Regions from separate parts of the Homo sapiens genome. Here regions 2 and 3 are each linked to region 1. Evidence: fine-mapped expression QTL. A gene starts in region 1. Each other region holds a variant in brackets. All regions are shown on one strand. Distances are between the middles of the regions. Region 1 holds the start of GCNT4 (glucosaminyl (N-acetyl) transferase 4). Region 2 holds the start of LOC105379040 (a long non-coding RNA gene). Region 3 overlaps GCNT4 (glucosaminyl (N-acetyl) transferase 4).

Region 1 (8,185 bases):
AATTTTTCCCTCACAGATGTGTTTGAATCACCCTCACCTTTGAGTGAAGTCTTGCAGCCGTATCCTCAGTGAATGTGCCCCTTTGGCTGAATTCCTTGTGTACAGCTGCCATTTGGTCCCTAGATTTTCATTTGGCTTCAGTTAGTTGGCTCTTAGTGACGCCTGTCTTTATGTTCTCAGTGCAAGGACTACTTCTGTAACTAGAGTTTCTTGGAGGGCAGGGGCTGTGACTTACACCTCTTTGCATCCTTAGCTCAGGCAATATGTTTTTATTAACAATGACTTTTGGAGACTGCACCAGGTTAAACAGCATTCTCTGAAAATTCATGTCCACCTGGAACCTGTGAAAGTGACCTTATTTGGAAATAGGGTTTTTGCCAAGTAATCAAGTTAAAATGAGGTCATACTAGATTAGGGTGGGCCCTATGTCCAATGACCAATATCCTTAAAGAAGAGGGAAATGTGTTTGCAGAGGACACACAGGAAAAGGCCAGAGACTGGAATGATGCATCTGCAAGCCAAGGAATGCCAGGAATTATCAGCAATCACCAGAAGCTAGGAGGGGGCACAGTGGGATCCCAGCCTTGCTAACACATTGATTTCAGGCTTCCAGCCTCCAGAGCTATGAGGAAATACATTTCTGTTGTTTTAAGTTGTGCAGTCAGTGGTATTTGTTAGGCAGTCCTAGGAGAATAACACAGGAATGCTGAGCACAATGAGCATGCTTACAATGTGGCAGAGACCATTCTGGGGCCACTACCATCTTTGGGCAACCCACTTTCAGAAGACCTGCAGGGCCGGTTACAACAAGTTTTTAAGGGATGAAAGAGAGTAACCTGGCCAAGCGCAGTGGCTCACATCTGTAATCCCAGCTCTTTGGGAAGCGAGGCAGGCAGATCACCAGGTCAGGAGTTTGAGACCAGGCTGGCCAATATGGTGAAACCCGTCTCCACCAAAAATACAAAAATGAGCTGGGCGTGCTGGTGTGCGCCTGTGGTCCCAGCTACTCAGGAGGTTCAGGCAGGAGAATCGCTTGAACCCAGGAGCGGAGGTTGCAGTGAGCCGAGATTGCACCACCTTACTCCAGCCTGGGAGACAGAGCAAGACTCCGTCTCACAAAAAAAAAAAAAAAAAAAAAAAAAAAAAAGCGTAACTTAAGGCAGTGAGTAGAAAGGAGAGGGAAACAGCTGGGTATGGTCTGAGAATAAAACAATCCAAAACAAAAATTGGAAACTTTATGATGAATAGGTTTTTAAGAAATAGTTTGCTTTAGGACAAAATAGTTGATTTGGAAGTTGGAAATAGAGGAGCAAGTGAGTGAATGGATATCCACTTTATGACATGATACACGCAAAATAATAAAATTGACCTCTTTAGGAGGAAGTGCATGTATTTCCTAGCATGGCTTGTTTGAGATGTGTAAGCTGTGGTTAATGATGGCTAGTGGTCCCTTTAAATTCCAGTCTTGGAGACCTCAGTGGTTAAGAGCATGGACACCATTCAGACCACCCACTTACTGGCAAGTTATGTCACCTCACCTGCCTCCCTCTCATCATCGGTAAAATCAGAATTAAAATAGCACCTCCCTCATAAAGTTGTGAGGATTGAAAGAGTTAATCCGCATAAATTGCTTAGAACAGTGCCCAGGGTGGATAATAGAAGCCTTAATTGTTTTTACCATCATGACTATCGCCATCATCATGTGCAAATGAGGGAGACCCAGGAAGTGTAAATTATTATTCCAGAAAGAGGCGGTCCCATGGGGAGAAAATGAAGGCAAAGCTGGCCATTTGCTTGAAAGTACGTCTGTAAAACGAATATTAAAACACTTGCTCTCCGAACACAGGGAGTTTTTAAAAAGGCGTGGGGGCTGGGGTAGACTTAAAGTCTCTCTACTGCTTTGGGCAGATTCCAGATTCTGGGAGTGAAGCATATGGGGACCCATGTGACCCTCCCTCTTTGAGATTCACTGGGTCCTAGGTCCTAGGTCCTACCCAGCTCCCCACCCAACAGCCATGCACATTGCAGGCCCTCAGTCAACACTGATTGACGCAAGGGATAAAGGAACAAACCGACTGGGATTGACTTGTCTGGTGCCACTCCCTGCCCTGAAAGGCAAGCCCTGGGAGCCCCCGGCCCCGAAAGGACGTGGAGCCTCGCGGGAGACTCCTGGAAGTGCGTGAATAGCAAGCACAGCGTGGTGCGCCCGCTTTACAAAGTTAGCATATTCACAAGAACCCGCTCGGAAGGCCAAGTCCTTGATGTCGGCCAATTGGTTAAGTGGCTGTGTGCTTTCTTTCCACTGCACTTATTCGGTGATCCCGATTGGCGTCCGCACAGCCGCCACCCTCACTCTCGCTTGAGGATAAAAAGCAAGCCGATTTGGCATGTAGGCACTGTTTGAAAAACAACTTTGCACTCTAGTTATTCGGCAAAAAGCTCCACCTTCCCACGCTGCTGATAATATTTCTCGCGGCTGCGTGGGACACTCCTCGTCTCACCCATGAGAGCGAGCTGCCTTCTGTCTGGTTGGGCGATTCCTGCAGGGCCTGAGCCTCCGCAGAGCCCGGCGTTCAAGGAGAAAAAAGGAGCCGCGGATGTGAGTTTGCTTCGTCACTGCCTTGTGAGCGACTTTGGGCAAGTTACTTAGCTCTCCTGACCTCAGATTTCTTGTCTAATGTGGGAGGGAACCGAACGTGGATGACGCTCCGGGCAGCGGCGGAGAGCCGAGATCACCGCGCGCGCCTGAGAACTTTGTCCGAAGCGCGGCCCGGGGACTGGGAGCGCAGGGCAGGGAGCTCCCTCTGCGGGAGCGCGGAGGCGCTCCTACTTTCTCCGCACGTCACGGGGGCCGCTCAGCGCTCTCCCACCCCGGGCCGGGCGAGAGCGGCTCCCCAGCAGGGCGACGGAGGAGCGCGGCGAGAGCGAGCCGCCGCGGAGAGCCTGGGAACCCAGAGCGCAACCCTCGGCCCCCGCCGGGGCGGCCTCCGCAGCCGCACGGACCCCGCGTTCGGGGCTGGCCCGCTCCCTCTCGTAAGTCGACTTGGCCACGCGGGGGAGCGAGGGTCGCCCGGGGCTGGAGATGTTAACCCGGTCTCAGCCTCGTCTCCGCCGGGACGCCCCGACCCTCTGCTCCTCACGACTTTCGTTTTCCCGCCGGGGAAAACTTCGGCGCCGCGTCCATCTCCAGGCGGCAGGCGGGGGCGCCCTCTCGGAGCCGCGCGGGGAACCGGGCTGAACCCCGGCCTCTCTCCGCGCCTGCAGGAGCCCCGGGGCCACCAGAGCGCGCGGCGGACGGACACAGCGTCACGGGCCGGGTGGGCGACCCGGCGCGCGCCTAGCAGACGCCGCAACTTCGGGGCTCCCCGCGGCAGCCGCCGCCTGCGGCCAGACGCGGGGAAGTTCCCCGAGGCCAGCGGGGGGAAAGGGCAGCGGGCGGCGGGCGCGGAGCGTGTCCTGGATAACGGGCGCGGGCCGCGGAGCCGGCTTCCTGGGCTCGCGGGCGGAGTGGAGCCGCCAGGCTGGAGTCGCGAGCGCGCCGGCGCCGGGCTTTCCCGGGACTCTCCCCAAGTGCCAAGAAGCGGCTCGTGGGCGCGCCCTTGCCGGGAGCAGGGGCATCCCGCCGTCCTGGCCCTTCAGAGCCCAGCGCCGCCCAGCCTGGCCCGCGCCGCTGCGAGGCGCAGGGGGCCCGGGGGAGCTACTGAGCCCGGCTTCGTGACGCTTGCCTTTCGGAGCCGCTTGCCGCTTCTCCGCAGCCCTGGACCAGAGGGGACAAGCGATGCTGCCCGAGCCCCCGCCCCTGGGCTTCGGGACAGGGACGCGGGGCGCCTGAAAGGACTGCTACCGCGGCTTCTGCGCCAGGGCAACCGGGGCTGGAGGGGGCCTCCGAGTTGTTCTTTGGGGGCGGAAGCTGCGGGCCGCGCCTCCCAGGCCGCGCCCTTCCCAGAGACCAGTTTCTGGGCTTTTTAAGGTCAAGTTTTTTGTGCCGCAGAGCGGGCCGGGATCGTCTGCCTGCGAGGTGGCGGTGCCTACCACAGCGGGTCGGGAGCTTCTGGGATCCGAGCCGAGAAACGGGACGCTCGAGTCCATTTGCAGTCTTCACGTAGGAAACGGTGCTAGGTAAACGGGGCGAGTGGGTGTTTTGTAAATTTAAAGACTCAGCTTTCCCTGACGGGGAAGTTTTCCGAGTCACGTAGTCTGGGAAACAGTGTATTGTCCCCTCGTTGGGCAGGCAGAGAGGCGATATTGGCCTTGGGGCACTTTTTAAATTCATTTTTTTCTTTTTCTTTTTTTTTTTTTTTTTGTCTTTAAAAATGGAAGAACAACAAACCAGAAGATTAACAGAGTTGGGGCTAATATAATGCGTTTAATTGTCTCATGTGAGTAGACAGAAGTCGCCCTTTTTGATCTTGCATTCATAAAACATGTCCCTATTAAAGCATCAATAAGCCTAAAACATTCTAGAAACTAACAGTTCATTCTGACAGCTTTTGTTGATAGTCTCTTAAGGAAGTAAAATCTTTAAAAGTGAAAAAGTGAATCATTATAGAGAGCATATCCTATGTTGCACTTTCTAAGGATCCAATTTTGTGTGAGAAATGACCAGTTAAGATGTGTTGTTGATTTATCTCTTTCTGGTATCAGGAGAGAAACAATAGCCAAGGAACTGTGTGGCCGCTGAATTTTCTATGGGGAGACTGAAAGGAGTTTCCTGCTGCGGGGTGGTGGTGGGATGAGAAGGTTTATACTCTTTTCTTTGGGGGAAAAAGTTTATACTGATTTGCTAAATGTCACATCTCCTGCACAGAGGTAGGTGGGGTGAATGGCATAGTCGGGCAGTCAGAGTTAGCACTTTATGGCACCTGGCCAAGTGCCTTCAAGATAAGCAGGCCATAAATACAGGTGCTTCCCAAACTGACTTTGAATGACCTATGGTTGTTTTCTAGGAAGGGAGAGGGAGAGAGAGCAGGTAGAGGGCCCTGTACCTGACGGTGCTGTTTCTGCCTCATCCTTGACCCACGGGTGCTGGGAGCATGACCTGGTGACCTGGGGCTTATCACAGCACCACATAGGAGAGGTAAAACGGAGTCAGCTTCAGGGGATTTCCTTCTTAGGCTACAAGGCGGGAAGAAAGCAGTGAGACAGTAAAAATGAGCAAAGCAAGGCTGAAAAGTGAGTTCTTCAGGCCACCTGTGTTGAGCACTGGCTGTGAACCAGGCTGTGAACTGTCCCAATGTGAACAGCGCATTGGCTGCTGTGAGGCGCAGATGTGCTGCAGCTCACTGCATCTGTGCTGAGGCAGGAGGCCTTGCTGGGGAGACTGAAGGTGGGCTCAAGGATGAGTGGGAGCTGTGTAAACTAAGCAGCCATGGGGGAGGGGAGAGGTGAGAAAGGGGAGTATTCCCATCCCCGGGAATGGTGTGTGCTGAGACCAGAGGAGAGGAGAGCCTGAGAGGTGGAAGAAAAGACAGGTTCAGTATGACCTGAGGGGAGGATGGAGAATGGCACCGGGGAGGCCAGCAGATACCACTGCCAGGTGATGCCAAGGGGCATTGTGGCGAGTGGATCCTCAGGACAGTTTCACACCTGATAGTACGCAGATGAGATATGGATTAAAAGCAAAACAAAACTCCAGCTGCCCCGTGGAGAATGGACTTGAGGAGCCCCTAAGTAGACAGGGCTGGGTCAGAGGGTGCAGGAGGCCTGGCAGTTGAGACTGAGGTAGTGCCAGTAGGGATGACACGTTGGGCGGATTCAAGGCCGGCTCTGGAGAGACCTGGGGCTGAGTTTTGTGTAGGGTGTGAGAGCAGATGAGTTTTGTGTAGGGTGTGAGAGTGCAGCGTGACTCCCTCTAAGCTTGGGTGCTGGTATTTACGGAAACAGGGAACATTGGAGGAGGAAAGACAAGTTTGGTTTTATTGGGTCTGGGCAGCTTTCGAGGCTCCTAAGTGGAATGGCTTCCCTAGTGGCCACATAGTGCACTCGCTGGCTGACTCTCCACAGATGGTGGTCCTCTGTACGAGGGGTGTGGTCTGAATCCTGGGGTGGATGGGGTGGGGCGAGGCGGTGGTGTCTGAGGACTGGAAGCTGCTCCCAGAGTGAGAGGTGGGACGGAGGGCTAGGTACTTTAAGATGAGGGAGCCTTAGACATATGTGAATGCGATGGAGCGAGTTGGAAGGAGAAGCTGAACACACAGGATGTCTGGATCCCCTCCCCCTTGGATTGCGATGGTATTTTGATATCAAGCTCATGTAATGTAAACTGTCAACATCTTACAGAAACAGTGTTTTAAAGCACGTGTGACTGCGAGTGATTTACTTCACAGATCATACAAATGTAATGTTTAGGAGAAACATGGATGATAATCACGCAACAGAGATGCAGCATGGCTAAGAGCAAGGCCTCGCAGTGAGACTGCTGAGCTCCTGGGTCTGACTCTTGTCACTGCCTAGCTTAGGACCAGGCCCAAGCTTCCTGACATTCCTGTCTCAGTTTCCTGGTCTCTGAAACGGCACCACACCTAAGGGGTACGTGCTCTACAGCACCTCCTTGTGGGCTGTTGTAAGGATTGCCTGTGTGCATTATGCAAGCACATAAAGTGCTCAGTAAACCTTAGTGCTGGTGGTTTTATTATCATGATGCCATTTCTATCATTTCTGGTTGTAGAATCTGAAACGTAGAGAATGTTGAGAACCTGTCCAAGCCCATACAGCCAAGGAATGGCAAAGTTAAGGCCAGGATCCGATTTGCCTGACTCACAAGGCAAGGCACCTTCTACTTAATGTGTCAACAAGTGTCAGGTGCTCGATGCTGTATAAAATTAACTGTAATAAAGGGATCCAGTCACTGCTTGCCAGAGTGTAGTGAAGCAAAGCAGATAACATCAACATTGAGGCTTACAGACTTTTCTCAAGCAATTTAGAGATGTATGTTTTGTATTAATTTGCATTACTTTGCATGTCATTTATATGCATTCCCATATGCTTGTAATTTTCCTAGTGGGATCTAAAGACTGAAGCTTCAAGTATATAAGAGAAAAGAAAATTAATCAGGAATTGAATGCAGCCGTTTCCATCCTAATAGATCTCTGGGGATGGTGGGCTCAGTGTGGGCATTTGGAGACAGGATTGGATCAGTATTTACTATTTTAGATGTGGGGAGCCAGATATCATTTGATAAAGGTAGCTCACAACTTAATATGTTATGAAGTTTGATCTGCTGAACGTAACAGAAAAATACAGGCAAAGTGGAAGAAGACCAGAGGAAAAATGTCTACCATATAAGATGCCAGAAAATGAAGCAGAAACAGAAGTCTGCTTTATGAAGCTGAACTAATAAGAAACACTAAGGGGCAGAAAGGAAAGATTGAATTTCTGCTAAGCGATATGAAATGTTAAAAAGAACAATCTTAATCACAAATGTGTGAGGCTTCAAAACCAGTAAATTCTTCCCAATGTGGATTTACTGAGAAACAGGCCATCGGGTCTTAGTGGAATCTTAGAACTACAGAGTATTACAAAAACAAACTACAATTTTGTTACTTAGAGCAGCGGTTCTCAAAGTGTGGCCTCAGGACCAGTTACATCAGCATCGCCTGGGAACCCGTGAGGCTCAGCAATTTGTGTTTTAATAAGTTCTTTAAATATTTAGAGCCAGCTTTCACTCCTCTATTGAGTCATTACTTCTTCAGCTTTAACCTTTCCAGGTCCGTCTTGTGGTCACTAGCTTCTCACTGGGCTGCTTAACTTCTATCAGTTACTACCCAGCAGAGGGATGTAGCCAGACATGAACTCATTTCTCAGGGTGTCTGCTCAGTACAGAGCAGAGTGGGTTGGTCCCTTCCTTAGTCCCAAGGTCTAAACTGTGGAAATGCTTTCCTTTTTGGGTGGTACTATTCATAGAAACAAGGATTTGCAGCCTGCATTCAGCTTTCGCATTCTGCAGCTTTGTGGTTCGCATGCTGTCCAGGAGCACGATGGTTTTGGTTTTGTTTTTGTTTTGCTGCATTTTGCTTTCTTTTGACAGTCTCGAACTAAACTGTGACTCGTGCCAAATGTATGGTCAGCCAAAACACTGAACTGTCCTCTAGAGATGCTCTTGTCAAACCACGTTTCTCCACGAACCACAATTCTCCATGAACCAGGGTTCTCAATTAACGAATACAGTTAATTTTTTGCACGTGTT
Region 2 (8,185 bases), 100 kb after region 1:
TCTTCTTTGCTAAGTGGTTCTTGCTGCCTATGAAGGTGCCCTCCCTGAGGAATGGTCAGTTCAGCTGAAGTCCAGTGCTGGGTTGTTGAAGCAATCCCTGAATTTTTATTTGATTTCCATTAGGGACAGTTTTAGCCTGAGGCCCCTGGCTGTGAAGTCACAGCCCTTTGGGAAGTCTCACCCGCCTTGGCTGATTAGTGGGCTGCTGAAGAATCACGTTTGTTCTGAGTCCCTGGATTGTTCCCATCCCCTTGAACCTGAATGATTTGGTTGCTTTTTTTTTTTTTTTTTTTTTTTTTTTACTTTGAGTTAACGAGAGGGGCTATGCTGAATACAGCCAATGACAGAAATAGAAGTCATTCATGTCATTCATTCTGGTGAACAGGCAGGATTCCAACCACTTTATTTGTGCAAGTATAAACAGGATTGATGTGATAGTCAAGATAGAATGAAAAAAAATAAGATTACTGATTATTGGGATAGGTCCAAAATGCTGGCTTGCCTTCAAATAGGCCCCCTCCTTAGTTCATGTTAAAATGCAAATTCCCAAGGAAGGAAAATACTTACTAATAGGAAATCACATTTAGTGAGCCATTCCCATTTGCCAGCCTTTATGCTGGGAGCTTTACATGAATGATCTCATGTAAATGTCACAACAGACCCAGGACTACTGTCATTTTACAGACAAGGAAACAGCTACAGAAGGCTTCCATCTGTGTGGTGAAGGTTACTCAGTGGTCAGAGGGGCAGCCAGGGTGGGAACCTGGGCAGCCAGGCTCCAAAGTTCATCCTCTTTACTACCACCCTGAACAATCTCCCAAGTGCTTCTATAAGATTCATTCATCCTCTAAAGCTTTATGCCAGATGTGCTGTGGATAAAACAAAACTTAAACACAAAGTATGCAGAGCCAGCTAACAAGTAGAGAGGTGAAGACCTATGCAGAATATTAATAACAAGCTTTTGAATAGAACTATGTTCTAGGCAGTGTTCTAAGCACTTTATGTATATTAATTCATTTAATCCTCAAAACAAAGTTTGTGGTGGATACTATTGTTAACAAATAAACTGAAGCACAGTGAAATTTTAAAGAGTTCATTTGAGCAAGCTACAGTTTGCAAGTCAGGCAGTTCCAAACCAGAGGTGGTTGGGGAGATCCACCAAGAGAACACAATGGGGAGGCTTTTAGAGGACAAGCACAGAAGTAAAGCAAAAAAGATATTTTATTGGTTACAGTTATGCAGTTGCTTTATTCGGTCTATCTTGTTGGAAAGTTTAGTTATATAAGTTCATTGGCTGCTTCTGATTGGTTGAGCTTACATTGTGTTTTTCTTTAATATAGGCACCTAAAGGAAATAGCTCAAGGTAGGTTTTGCTTATGTTTGCAATTCAAGCAAACTCAAGCTCCTAAAGGGATGAAAATGTTGAGCAGAGCAGAAATAAAGACAGTGAGGGTGCTCTGGTACAGATGTGGTCACTCAGCATACTCAGCACTTAGCAATCTTTTGGGTGTGCTTGTTCAGCCAATGGCAAATTCACCCAGCACTTTTTTCATCCTTTCTACAGTGCTTCATTTTAAATTCTTTCATTCAACAGATGATCACTGGGCACCTGCAGTGTGCCAAGCCCAGTAAAGCCCACTGGGATGGAATGATGGAATAAGTTGAGGTACTCATGAGGACCCATGAAGAAACAGAGGACAGGCATTCACACTAGACTAGGGAGGTCAAAAATGGCTGGCTCAGCAGTCTTGAAAGATGGGTGGAAAACTGCCAAGCAGACGAAAGGAAAGACATTTTAGGCAGGAGGATAACCAATCCAAGACCCAGAGTTGTGAAGGAGCATCATATCAAGAGAGCTACATGGGCTGGGTAAGGTGGCTCACACCTGCAATCCCAGCAGTTTGGGAGGCCCCAGTGGGAGGACTGTTTGAGTCAAGGAGTTTGAGACCAGCCTGGGCAACATAGTGAGACCCCTGCCTCTATGAAACATAAAATAAAAATAGAACTACATGGAGCTGAGTGTGGTTGGAGCATTGGTGAGAAGCATGATATATAGGAAGAGAGAAAGAGAATTATGGGTGAGAAGGTAGGGAAGGTAGGCACGGGCTAGATCATGAGGGTGCTTAAGTGATGAACTAAAGAAATTTACATTTTTCCAGCAGACCACAGAAAGCCACTGGAAAAGTTAAACCAGGATGGTGAAGTGGTCTGATTTGCACTTTAGAACTTTGGTGGCTGCAGTGCGAAGGATGATTGGAGGTACAGGTCCAGGTAGAGGCATTCCAAGGCTTTGTAGTGACCAAGGATGGGGATGTGAAGCCCTCAGGAGGGCCAAAGGAATTCAGAGAAAACCCTGTCTCATGTTTTGCTGAAATCAGTTTCTTCTGTGTCTGGCATTTCTGTTGTTCCAAGTATTTCCCCCTATTTAATTTTGTTCCTAAATGTATTACACTTAGATGCAATCTTAGCGTCACTAAAAGTGGCACAGCCGGGCATTAAATGTGTCAGAATATGACACAGGAGGAAGTATCTGGCACCACCCGTGAAAACTCTTGCCTGGATCACTCTCTTAGTCCAACCAGCGGCCACAGGAAATGTGGGGACTAGAGAAACAAGCAACCATAAGGAAGCAATTAGCCAAAATTGGAACATGGGACATTCCACAGGACAAATGATCAGCTTCTTCAAGAAATTGCTGGCATGAAAGAGAAAGAGAGGATAACCATTATGGAATAAAAAAAGATTTAAAGTAATAACACAGTGCCATGTTTGAACCCTCGTTCAAGGAAACAAACTGTAAAAGCCATCTTTCTCCATTGGGGAAACTTGAATATGGACTAGGTGTCAGATGATATTGAGGAATTATTAGGATTTTTGTTAAATGTTGATGATGATGTGGTAGTTATGTTTTTAAAATATATATTGGGCTATTTCAGGTGAAATGACATGGTCTCTGAGATAAATACAATGAAAGAAATTTTATTTAATTGAAATGAAAGAAGATTGGCAAAACATTGATAATTTTTGGAGCCACTAATGAGTACTTAAATTATACTATTAGTCCATATGTTTGAAATTTTCCATAATATAAAGTGTGTGTGTGTGTACGTATGTAGTTAACTCTGCTCATTTTTCCACTATAAAATTAACATAAGCACTTTAAGGAAAACAAAAATATATCTATTAAAGAGTTAATTACATTCCTACCACTCTTCTAATACAACTACAGTCAGTATCCAGTAAATTTCCTTTCTTTTTTTTCTGTGCACACAATTTTTTTTTACATAGTTGGTGATAATTTTATATTTCAAATTTTATTCTTATTTTTTCACATCTTTCATTTTACCAGCTGGGCTTCATAACTGTGGTATGCTGGCTCTTGGGAGCTGACTGTGAGCACTTCCTCCCGGCTCTGCATCCAATGCTGTCACGTTGGTGGCTTGTAATTAATCATGGTGGAAATATTTAAACCATGAAAATCAGTAAACATTACAAGTCAGAGCTTTTTTCCTAAAGAGCTGGTTGTTAAACATTTACCAGCACATGGCTATTTATAACCACGTTTGTTTTTTTTTCTCTTTTTTTGAGATGGAGTCTCGCTCTGTCACCCAGGCTGGAGTGCAGTGGCGTGATCTCGGCTCACTGCAACCTCCGCCTCCCGGGTTCAAGCAATTCTCCTGCCTCAGCCTCTTGAGTAGCTGGGACTGCAGGCACATGCCACCATGTCCAGCTAATTTTTTTGTATTTTTAGTAGAGATGGGGTTTCACCATTTTGGCCAGGCTGGTTTTGAACTCCTGACCTCAGGTGATCCACCCGCCTCGGCCTCCCAGAGTGCTAGGATTACAGGTGTGACCCACTGCACCCGGCCTAAAACTGTAATTTTTAAAAGTGACCTATTAGCCCATGGAGTGATATATTATAGTGAAGTTTAGTTCTTACTATACGCCAGGTACTGAGTACTTTACTCACATTAGCTCACTTAATCCTAACGATGGACCCTATGAGGTAAGTGCTATTATCATCTGCATTTTACAGATAAAGAAATGGAGACAGAAAGAAGTGAAGTAAATTCTCATAGCTAAATGGTAGCAAGCCTAATGGGACTGGAACTCAGGTAGTCTTACTGCGGAACCTTAGCCAACACTGTGCTGTGCTGCTTTGTACCCCTGCTCCAGCCAACGACTGGGCAGCCACCCTCAGAGGCCAACACCACTGCTCCATGTATCATCCAGCAAGCGCAGAGAACTGCAAGGCCAGCATCCATCATCCCCTTTCTGCAACCTGAGGGCATGACTTGAGCCCAGCCCCCAGTAGCAGTTTGGCTTAAGTAGAATTTAC[A/G]TTATCCTCCCGGAATGCTGCTGTTCAACATAGCAAATGCACCCACCTGTTCTGCCTGCTGCTTAGCAGTCATAGCCTTCATAGGGTCACTTTCAGAGTCGAGATGTGTTTGGGGAGGATGGCGGCACACTCCAAGCTGCAAGAACTATTATGACTTCAGAGGCCGGATGAGTTTTGTTTTTTATCAGGGGCAAGGACTTCATGGGTGACTTCTTCCTGCTTCCTCCTGTTTGCAGTGTTTTACGGTCCTGCCTGAGAGACAGGAGTACTAGGCAGGATTCTATATCTGGTGTAGCTGTTCAGTTACTGAGTGATGACAGAGAGAGTCATTTGACCTCAGCAATGATCCTTTTGCAGAGTAGAGGCATCATAAGACCAGAGAGTTTTCAGAGCATTCAGAAGCTCTTGCAGGCAAGATGCTCTGTGTGCAATTTAGCTGACAGCCTACTCTCCTCTCTCGGGAACCAGATTTCACCTTGTTGGGGGCTAGGAGCACCCAAAATTCCTAGTTCTGTGTTCTCATATCACAGTGATAAGTAAGTGGTAGAAACAGCAATGGGGTTATTACTAAAATGTCTTTGAAGCTTGTCAGCCCAGCTTTGGATAAACAGCTGACATTAATCCAAGAATAGACTTTCATCAAGAAGCAGGAGAGGAGAAAGGTTGTCTTGGAGGGAGTGGGGATTTTATTATTATACGACTAAAATCATCAGTGAAACAGAAAAAGTTTACATCCCCTACATGCAAAGCTTTGCAACACCACAGGGACTCAATCAAATAAATGTCATTTTCACTCTAAGACCAAGGGAGAGGCTCTTGTAAACATCTAGGTTCTGTCCAGTTTAGGATTTCCCCTGATCTTTCAAATTCTCTAACCCATTAAAGTACCAAATAGAGATTTGACCAGAATTGGAACACAGCAGCAAATCTTAGGCCCTTTTCGGAGAGTGCTCCTGAGGAAGGACCTCAGGATGGGTAAACGTAGGAGAGAGAGGGAAGAAGGAAAAGAAAGACTCTAAAAGGTTTGAAAGGAGCCATTTACACTTAGGATGTGCTCCTCTCTCTAGACTCAGATTCACCTGAATGTTTTTGATGCAAGGGAAAGAAATAACTGAATGCTTCTGCAATTCCAGATTACTCCTTGGAATTGGAGGTGTGGTGAGGACTGAGACTCTGTGCCCCTACCCAGAGAGAAGTTAAGGAGAACAGATAGATTTGCGGCTTAAAAGGCAGCTGCCCTGGGCTCCCCTGTAGCACACTACTAGTTAATAGAAAGAAGATATAGGTGAAAAGCCCTGAATATAAGGTCTATATTGCCATGACTTGTTCTTTAGATGTTTAAATCATGTCTGATCTCTCCAAGTGGATCCATACCCTATTCTTTGAAATTCCATGTAGCACTAACAACATATTTGGGCATTCTTGGAGCCTCATTTTCCCAGTCTGTGCTCTCAAGTGATGAGGAAAAATTATGAAGACAATACCTTTGCATTTGCCTTTTCTTTTTTGATGAATGACTTTAAAAGACCAAACCTGAGTTCACCTACAGTGCAGTGATGAATTTTACACTTACGTGTGTGAACTTTGCCATCTTGTTCTCACATTGGCTCAGGCACGCAGATCTCTCAATACGTCCACCAAACGACTCTCTTGGGTAGCATGATGGCTGACACATGGCTAGCATTTAGTAGGGGACTCTGAGCAGAATCCTAGGTCATCAATTAGTAATGATTGGCAGGGCTGATATTTGACTACAGCTAATGGCCCTGAGGTCTCCAGGACTCAATGACTCATTCTCACCCTGACCTTTGCACTCTAGCAAATGTGTTTTTGTGTTCAATGGCAGTATTTCTTCAAGTCATCCAGAACAGTACATTATACTCATGCCCTGCTCATTTTATGCATACATTTTTTATTGATAAATAATATTTGTAGATATTTATGGGGCATATGTAATATTTTGAACATGCATATGATGTGTAATGATCAAATCAGGGTATTAGGGTATCCATCACCTCAAACATTTATTATTTCTTTGTATTGGGAACATTTCAACTCTTCTCTTCTAGCTATTTAGAAATATACAGTACACTGTTGTTAGCTATAGACACCCTATGCATTTTAATAGCAGACTGAGTTATGTTCCAAACCACAGGCTGTCTTCTCTCCTCCATATCATTGTAGTTTTTGCTGTGATTTAATTACATAGCAAAATTTAATCTCAGTTGAATTCACTAAGAACCTCTGACTCCCGGCTTGACCCAGGGAGATAGTCCATCCAACCCCTCAAGCCTAAGGTAGTTTTTAGTCAGGGTTACAAGGAAACCCAGTCAAAAGAGGCATAATCTTTCAGCTGCTACTGGAACGGGGAGTGAAGTGTCAGAAGCATCCTGGAAGGAGTGCACTCTTTTCTCAAGAGGACATGTGATGAGTCTTTAAAGTATTAATGTTGTACCCTGCAGGTCAATGGGTCAAACCACTTCCATTAGCTGGGCAGTGTAAGTTTGGCATCAGAGCATAAGGTTTTGATTGAATGCAATGATTTTTCCCTCTCTTATTTCCCTTTGGACCGGTGAGTATTATCACCTGGTGGTGGAATCCTTTCTCCACTTCCTCTTTGTTCTGCTCTCCAAGGGCTCAGTGTATAAGGTTTCAATCTGCTATTGTGATATGCATGCATTTTTTAACCTCAACTCAAGTATGGAGTGCACTGATATACCAGAGCGCCCTCCCCGACCACTGCCTGCCCACACACTTGAAACAAGTTTCAAAATTACACTCTGATAGTTCTCATTTTATGTCTCCACCTCCTCCTCCTCTTTTGTTGAATTTTCAATACCAGTCAAGACAACAGTATTAGTTTTGTGACTTACAAATAGATCACCTCTCATGACTGGTATCTACCCCCACTCCTTCTCTGTGATGTTTTCATCATCTTCTAGGTCTTACTCTTTCTTGTGCAAATTTTTGGATTTATCAATTACTCTGAAATAATTTGGAATTGTCAAATATTTATATATATATATCTGTAAAAATTCCTCAAAGGATTTCTCAAAATATCACAATATTTGATATCCTCTCTGCCACTTCATTTCTTTTCTCTGCCTCAAAGCCCCATATAGAAAACATTCTGAAAATATAATCACCAAAATGCAAATTCTATCCTTTCTGGAAAGTGGAATTGCAAGTAATTTTTTAAAGTGTATATTTTCTAATACCTACATATTTTTGTATAAAAATAGTATGTTTTAAAATGACCATCACTATATTTAATTAAGAGGTATTAGAGCTCAGAGCGTGATACCCCAAAATTTGGTACTTTGGCATAGTGGGTACTTTGGACTGAAGGAGGATGGAAGGGCCTCAGAAGTTAAGGTGTTCAAATATGATATTCTGGCATGTTAACTGTTTAAGCTAAAAACACCTGAAAAACAGCAGATGCCAGAAGATCACTTTGACCTTCATGCTGTTTCTTAAGAGCAGAAGATGAAATTCCAGTGTGGAAGACACTCTCCCTGTACTAGGAGGAAAGACAGCATCCTTATCTTCAGGGATGAAAAGTTAAAACCAAGAGAATACTGTAGACTTTGATAGAATCACTCTTATCTTTTAAAGCCTCTCCACACAAGTTAGTTGCTTCTTCACAACTTGTAATTCCTTGTCCAATTCAGTATATAAGTAACTCACTCTAACTGCTTCTTTGGGTCTTCATTTATGCATGAGGGCTCCCCTGCCATGTAAAACTTGTATTAAATAAATTTGTATGTTTTTCACCTGTTAATCTATATTATGTTAATTTAATTCTCAGACCCAGCCAAGACCCTAAGAGGGTGGAAGTGGAATTTT
Region 3 (8,185 bases), 28 kb after region 1:
AATACTGTTTAAACTCAGTCCTCCCATATTTTAAAAGGTGTCCAAAATTCCATACACAAGGGAAAGTGATCTAGCCTTTGATGTTATTAGCCTGCAGTTGGCTAGGTTTTTTTAATATTTGTTTTTGCTTGTAATCTCACTGAGCCAAATCAGAGATCTTAAACATTCAGTCAGTCATCAAACATTATTGAGCACCTAACTATATGACAGGCACTTTTTTAGAGACTGCGGCTTATCCTCATCATAGCAACCTCGGTATCTTTAAGTTCTCCACATAACAGTCAGGATTCTACTGAAGAAGCTTTTGAAGTTTGTGGTAATCGTCTGATCATATAAACCACCCATTTCAGAGTAGTGTTTAAGTACTGTGACCAACACTCCACTTGTCTCTTAACTCAGCTTTCAAGACATTTCTTAACCATCAGAGCAGAGGAGGAAAGACTCACTACCTCAGAAAAATCTCAAAGAATAGTCCAATTTCCTGCTTGCCAAAGCATAATCTGCCTTTTGGTGCATTACTTGGTCAATTCAGGGTTGAGGAGACTGTTGGGGGGCATTTATAATGTATGAAAGTTAAGGAAGGGGGTGAGGATGTGGGTTGGGACAGGTAGTACCTAAAGAGGAGCGAAGGGATTTATACAACATTTTTATCATGTTACAAAACAGTATCATGAATGGCCTCCTTTTTAGTTCAACTGTTTCTTTAAAATGCATTTACTGATTAAAAATAAGAACTGACCAATAGCTCCAAGTGTCACACACCAGAACATTAAGCCTAAGTCCTCAATTCATAAGTTATCATTCTAGATAAGTTTCTTTACAATGGAATACTTTCTGTGGAATCATTATAATTCTGTTGTATGGAACTATCAAGCTAAGAGTCACTAAACTTTCTTCAAAAGGTTGTGTGAAATATGACAGCTTTCTAAATTAATTTGTATAGTCATTTAAAATTTTTTCTTCTCTGGCAACTGTCCAACTGGAATCCAGATTTAAAGTGATAAAAGCTCTAAGTTTCTTGCAGTCTTTTTCTCAGCTTAGTTCCAGAGAGAAAAAAGCTAATTTTCCTAAGGACACAGCAAGAATATTCATTAAGGATATTTTCTAAAACCCACACTTGAGAAAACCACCCAATGAGTCAAAAATATATATATATAATATATATTTTATATATATGTAATATATATTTATGTTATATATTATATATAGAACAATTCCATTACATATATAATATATAAATATATATATTATATATACATATATTGTATATGAATATATATTATATATACATATAATTATATATATATAAATATATATTATATAACATATAATGAATATATATTATATATATAATGGAATTGTTCTGGAAGTAAAATGGGGTAGGAATGGGGTTCTGAGAATAGGCAATAACATTTTCACCAGTCTCTTGGGAAATTGTAGAACTCATGTAAAAATTTCTTGGTCATGATATGTCTCAATGGCAGCCTCAGTAAATAAAAATGTAGCCTCAGATATTATATTTAAAGATGTAGTAAATCTAGCCCAAAATAGGACAATTTGGAAGATTTAAGTATTACATATTTTTTAAATGTCTGTGTTCTAAATGTGAAATGCACTTTGCTCATTTTAAAGTTCATAATACTAACTGCCAACTGACACCACTTCTCGCTCCCTTTCTTCTCTTGAACTCATTTTTCTCCCTTTTTATTTACCCCCTTCAAATTACTTCATTCTTTGGAAATAACTATTACCAAGCCCCATTCTTCAAAATAAGTAAACATTGTATAGAGCCAAGTTCTGCAAAAGATCCATACCAGTTCACTCGTGTGCGACTGTGGACAGGTAAGTCACTTTGGTCTCTATGAACCTCAGTTTTCCAGATCTTTGAAATGAGCACTTGGATGCCTATCCTTGCTTCCACACAAGTGTTTTTTTTTTTTTTTTTTTTTTTTTGTGAGAATCGATTGAAATAGTATATGAAGTGGTTTGAAAATAGGTACAAACTATTGACATTTCAATGTCAGAGAGTGATACCTGTAGTAGTATAGGCAAAGGTCCAACCCCATCGAAAGGCTTAAACATTTACCTTTTCTGAAAAACTATTGAAATATAAAGAGAGTCCCCAGTCACAGGGGCAACTTCTGTAACCAAATCCAGATCTGAGGAAACTCCTGTAACCCCATTTGGGGTTTCTTTCTAAGCCAATAGGGTTACAGGTTGGTACAGTGACACATTGAGAATGGGGCTACAAATACTTTTCCCACCATCTAGGATGAAATACACGAAATCCTGTTGAAATCTTGGTTTTTATGCCTTTGCTCATCAGAATAAACGTAAATGCTGAAAAACAAATAACCTCCTGATCCACTGTCTTGCCTCCTGGTGAGAAATGATTCTATCCCCTGTTTATTGGGAAATTTCCAAAGTTGTTCATCACTTAAATGCCGTATTCAAAGGGAACATGGAAGGATGAAGCGGAGAAAGTGCCTTCGAGACATTCACACATTTCTCTGGACTCAGTCTGTTAACATATCAGGGAGCTTGTCAGATCACACCTTTTTGCCTTGGAAATCCTACAGATTTCCTGTACGCCTTCATATCTGATTCTTCCCTAAAACCTTTGGGTATGATTTCCTCCCTGGTCTTGATAATGTCCTGCAGTCTGTGTTTTATAATTATTCTTTGTATTTATTGAATCTAGACTTTAAGTTATTCAGAGATCAGACCAGAACCTTAGAGTTTCTAAACTGTATGTGGATATTAAATAATATTAATAATGAAAGAGCTACCAAAATAGTCTATATTGTGTGAACAATCTCTTGGGATATTAGACGTGTTTAAAGACCAGTGTTGCTGCTATTTTTAATATTTTGGTTAATTTAAGTGAAATGTACATATTTTAATTTGAAGATTTATCTTGCCCATCAGAATGTGAAGATATACTTGCATATATTTTGACATATTTCATGGAAAATAAAAATGATAATCCACTTTGTGAGTGTAAGTGAATGTATTCATATGTATGTTATTATAAATGATTTTTGTTTGCACTGATGATGAAATGAGAGTTTTGGGGGCTTTTTATACATTTATATCGACTGGTCTCTAAATCTCCTATTTTGTTTTCTTATCATTTTTGAAATACAGTTCCCATTACATGAGTTTTAAATAGATTGGTGTTTCATTTTGTATTATGCTACTACTAGATGTTGATTCTCTGGTATTGTAAAATAAAATGTGCTCCAAAAACCCAAACCCTTGGACTTTATGAGCTTTCCTTTCTCTGGTTTTGCTGATTCCCCACAAAGATTCTTTCAGTTTATGGCACTTGCCCCTTATTTAAAGAGCAGAGTTTATTTCACTTCAGTGTAAAAGAAATTCAGCATGTGTATTATACACAATATAGGCACATGAACTTAAGCCATTTAATTTGGTAAAGTCTCAAAGAGTCTTCCAGGATTTACCTGTCTTCCTCCTACTTCAGGTTGGTTTCTCCTGTAAGATTAATAAGATAAATACTCTTGTTTGCTTGATTACTTTATGGAAGTAGTTTTCAATAGGGTAGGTTGAACTTTTTATCTCAGGTCCCTCACTTCCTGGAAAATCAATATTCTTCCCTTTCTACCTTTTTTTTTTTTTTTTTTTTTTTTGAGATGGAGTCTCGCACTGTCACCCAGACTAGAGTGCAGTGGTGCGATCTCGGCTCACTGCAACCTCCGCCTCCCGGGATCAAGCAATTCTCCTGCCTCAGCCTCCCAAGTAACTGGGATTACAGGTGCCCGCCACCATGCCCAACTAATTTTTTGTATTTTTAGTAGAGACAGGGTTTCACTATGTTGGCCAGGCTGGTCTCAAACTCCTGACCTCGTGATCCTCCCAAAGTGCTGGGATTACAGGCATAAGCCAAGGCACCCAGCCAAGATTCTTCCCTTTCTTTGAAGGACTCCTGCCTTGGTTGTGAGCACGCAGACACCCCCAGTGTCCCCAGGCCTTGCTGGTGGAGGATTCCTGATGAGCTTCTGCTCTGTTCTCCCAGCTCTACTGAGCTGAGTATTTGTTATCATCAACCCCCACCCGCTGAGAAGCTCCCTGGCCATTTTTCTTTCACCATTTCTAAACCCATAACAGTCACCAGCCTACCCAGTATGTAGATATGCCAGGGGTTTGCATATTTCACTCACAAATCTCAATCCATCTCAAGGAATTTGGGGCATTTGGGGAATCTTCAACCTAAAAAAATAAACACTATACTCAACCTAAGGTTAATTCTAGCTCTTACCAAGCTGGACAACTGTGCAAATTCACAGTAATTTCAGGAACAGGGGACTATTTTTTGGTGCCAGTGGTGGTGAGGCAGGTCTATACACAGCATCATATTAAAGACTGATTTGATTCCTACATAAGTTTCATATTTTTTTGTTCCCATTGGCACCTACAAATCTACACCTAAATTGGGACAATTGGCTTCTAGTTACATGAAACTGATTATGAGGAAACTGTGGCAAGAGAGAATGAATAGATGATTGTAAATTTGTTCTCAGTACTGGAAAAAAAATCTGGTGATGCAAAACAAACGGCTTCAGAGACAGATGATCAGGGTGTTAACCCACGTGGACACACCAAAGCCACAGGAAGACTCTTCATCGGGCCTTACATACAACCTTCCCACAGAGCAGCAAA[G/T]CACGCCCTCCTGGAGCACCCTCGGTTGAATCATGCATAAGACAAACAGCCAGAAAAGAATCTCAGGGAAAATCATGGCCAGGAACCTGGGTAAATTTATTTTTTTGTTCTTCTTGTTTCTTGTTTTGTTCTTTGTTGTTTCTCATAGAACAATAAAGGAAATTAAACAGAAACCACGTATATTCATAATTCTAACATCCTGACAAAAGCATTATAGTTCTCTGAATGCTCTTATCTACATACACGTGTTTTGACATTTGCCCGCACTGCCAATATTTTTACAATCACTCTGCCATGTTGCTACATGGTCTTTATGGCTATGTAATGGTCATACCACAATTCACTCAGCCTCTACTTTACTGTAGGACATTTGAATTGTAAACTACTTTTTTTTTTTGCTGTCATAAATAACAGTGCTATGAACAGTGTTGTTCGTACAGCTTCTCCTTGAATTACTTCCTTATGATGCATTTCCATGAGAGAAATTATAATCCTGAAGAGAATGGAGTTTTTAATTGATTGTTTTTCATGTATGTTTGTTATAAATCAACTTCTCAGAAACTGTGCAGGATGCTTGGTTGATGTATACAACTACAGCCTCTACTTATGTGAAATTGTATTCATTTATTCTGATAAATGGCTCTTCAGATTCTCAAAGTAAGCCAAGACTTTTGCCTAAAACAAGGAAGTAGTTTTTCCTCTAGCAGATAAAAGATGGTGTTTTAATGCATGGGTAGTAAAGAGCTATTTCAGAATAATGTTCTTAAAGGCTTAACTTTGATGACTGACTCCATTCCAGGAAGGATCTAGAAGTTGCTAGTTCCTTCTAATATCCATTCTTTCTGGCATCCCTGGTTATATTCTGAGCAACAATGTGACCAGCTGTTAATTCCCAGCTTCCCTTTCAACTATGGGGTGGTGGGCAAATGAGTTTAAAGCCTAAGTCACTGGGTGGGACATCTGAGAGTGCGCTTGGAAGGTAATTTACCTAGCTTGCCTTCTCCCCATCTCTCTTGCTTTTTCCTGTGCCTAGAATGTTTGTTATAGCTGAAATTTCAGCAACCATTTTAAAACCATGAGGATGGGAGTTATATGGCAGGGACAGAGTGAAAATATGACATCTGAATCATCCAAGACTACCTACCTGCAGTCTCCTTTTATGTAAGGAAAAACTTGGTATGTGCTTTAAGCCACTGTCATCTCAAGTCTCTATTACTAACAGCTGGACATGATCCCTAACTTACACAATGTTTGTCTAGGACACTGGTTTTCAAACTCCAGTCTGCATCAGAATCATCTGGAGGCCTTCTAAAACACAGATTGCTCCCCGCCTTTCCCTCTTTCTCATTAAAGGGGAGGGAGATTTGCATTTCTAACAAGTTCCTAAGTGAGATTGATGCTGTTCTAAACTATGCTTTGAGAACCACTGTTAGGATATCTTTCCTGAACATTATTTCAACATTGCAAGCATTAGGCTGATTTTAATATTTAGAAACCACCAAATTTTGCAATAAGCATACATACCTCTTGATCCTAAGACACTATAGTTAAAAGTTCAGAAATATTTTATATGCTGTTTTATATGCTTTCTCTACATTGTTGAAGAGGTAGCTATCTATATTTTTAAAATAATGACCAAATTTGATGCATTTCTGTAACTATAGGTCCTCCTAAAATTGTTTTCAACCGCATGGCTGCCATACTTGTAACTATTTTATAAAATACAATGAAAAACAAATGAATTTTGGAGGGTGTGAGTAACCTGAAATCATGGGGGTGAAATCTCGAGTTCAGACGTATGTGTAATTCTATAAAACAAAGATGTATGCTAGTGAGATGGCCTCTACCCAGCTAAGAAAAAATTTCCATGGGAAAAAAATTATGAACTCTAAGGAGAATACAAAGTGGTGCAGGTGTAGCTTGGCTAGAGATAGAGTTTACATACTCAGGATCGTGTAAATGTTAAATATTGACCTAATCAATGCTACTGATATAATTTACAGGCAACATGAGGGGATAGAAAGGATGAATATGTTGGGTAGGAGTGTGGGTGGGTGTGAAAGACATCAAAATCATCTCAATGATCGGACTAGGTAGACAATGCCTGTAACTGAAAAACCAAATAGAGGAATAGAAAGATGTCACTCCAATTTGTGGAAGCAAAACCAAAAGAACCACTTCAGAGAGTTACTAGTCACCTCCAAGGAAAGGAAAGGGGGAATGCTGATTCTGTTTTGCAACAAGCCTTGCAACCAGGTCTTTAAACTTTGAAATAAAAACTGGGGAAACAAATAATTAACTGGTAAGGAAAAAGACATGATCTGTGATCAGACTGCTTGTAATCTAATAGCTAGTGCAAAGAACCAGAAACCTTATAAGGGTGGCTAGTGTTTCTGTCTACTCAGCCCTTCTTCCATCCCAGAATCTTCAGAGCACAAAGAGCCCTCCTGGCTACTGAGGTGGTCACGTGACCCAAGCTGGGCCAATTACAGCCTCTCACAGCCAAGGCCACACTAATTGGTCTAAGGAGTGGGCGCCTGATCTAAACGGGGCTAATCAGGGCTCTTGGGACTTGTTAAATTCCTGCCAGAGAATAAGAACCTCTTGTTCCTTTTTCTTTTTTAATCACAAAACATAAGGATGTGGGCTTGCTAGCCCAGCACAGCTCTCTCTGTGTCCACACCCCACTACTTGGACAAGTTTGTATCAGCGAATTAATGTTCCAAAAGGAACAGGGAAGAGAAAGACAATGACAGAGGGGGTCCTCGAGATGTTCAAGGCAGTCAATCAATCATTGGTGACACCAGCTCCACCTGCCCTTAGGTTCATTTACACAGCCCAATTCAATCTCTCCTTTTTGTGTGTTTACACAAAATTAAATTAAAGTTCACTTATGGTCATAAAAACTACCTTGTAGTCATAATACACAGTGGAATACCAAACAAAACTTATGGAAAGTTTCAAGCAAACACAAACAGAGAGAGAGAAGAGCATGATGAATCCCAACATCCTCATCACTCAGACCCACTATTGTCAATATTTTGACAATCCTATTTCATCTATCCACCCCTTCACCCCATTTTCCCACAGAAATATTTTAAAATAATTCTAGATATCAAATTATTTTACTTGTTAATAATAGATTGAACCATATGAAACTGCTGTTTTTGTAGGTCAGAAGTGGTCAACTATTGGCAATATTCTGTGTTCTGACCTAATATTTCAACAGTGTCAGGTCCACGGCCACGACTATGCCAAATGTCCTGCTTGGGGTTAGATTCCAGCCTCAGCTGAGGTCTGAGGCAAGTGGGTGGATGGGCGAATAGCTGAAAGAACACTCGGGGGGCTGTAAGTAGGTGAAATGTAATTTTATTCAGCAGCTCTCTCATCAGCAGCTCTCTTACACTGTCCACCTGTCTGCTCTGGCTCTGTGGCTCCTGCCACTCCCATGCTTGCAGCTGCACTCCCTGGCCTGCAAGGCCAGCCACAGGGTCAGCAGCCTAAC

What was found. PIP is the estimated chance that this variant, and not a neighbour inherited with it, causes the effect.
Region 2: its variant is fine-mapped to the expression of GCNT4 in lung (TOPMed, PIP above 0.99).
Region 3: its variant is fine-mapped to the expression of GCNT4 in whole blood (TOPMed, PIP 0.93).

The regions. Positions count from the first base shown.
Region 1 is chr5:75,048,363-75,056,547 of GRCh38, reverse strand. It overlaps GCNT4 (glucosaminyl (N-acetyl) transferase 4), which reads left to right and starts at 3,990. Exons shown (of 4, transcript NM_001366737.1): 1 at 3,990-4,119; 2 at 4,321-4,379. RefSeq lists an enhancer at 298-888 and silencers at 2,734-3,103, 3,224-3,273, 3,494-3,743.
Region 2 is chr5:74,944,591-74,952,775 of GRCh38, reverse strand. It overlaps LOC105379040 (a long non-coding RNA gene), which reads right to left and starts at 4,609. Exons shown (of 2, transcript XR_948485.3): 1 at 4,386-4,609. The variant A/G (reference allele first, on the strand shown) is at 4,340.
Region 3 is chr5:75,020,416-75,028,600 of GRCh38, reverse strand. GCNT4 (glucosaminyl (N-acetyl) transferase 4) reads left to right here. Exons shown (of 4, transcript NM_001366737.1): 4 at 1-3,255. Among named protein-coding and RNA genes, the nearest start is that of GCNT4, 28 kb to the left of the region's middle. The variant G/T (reference allele first, on the strand shown) is at 4,681.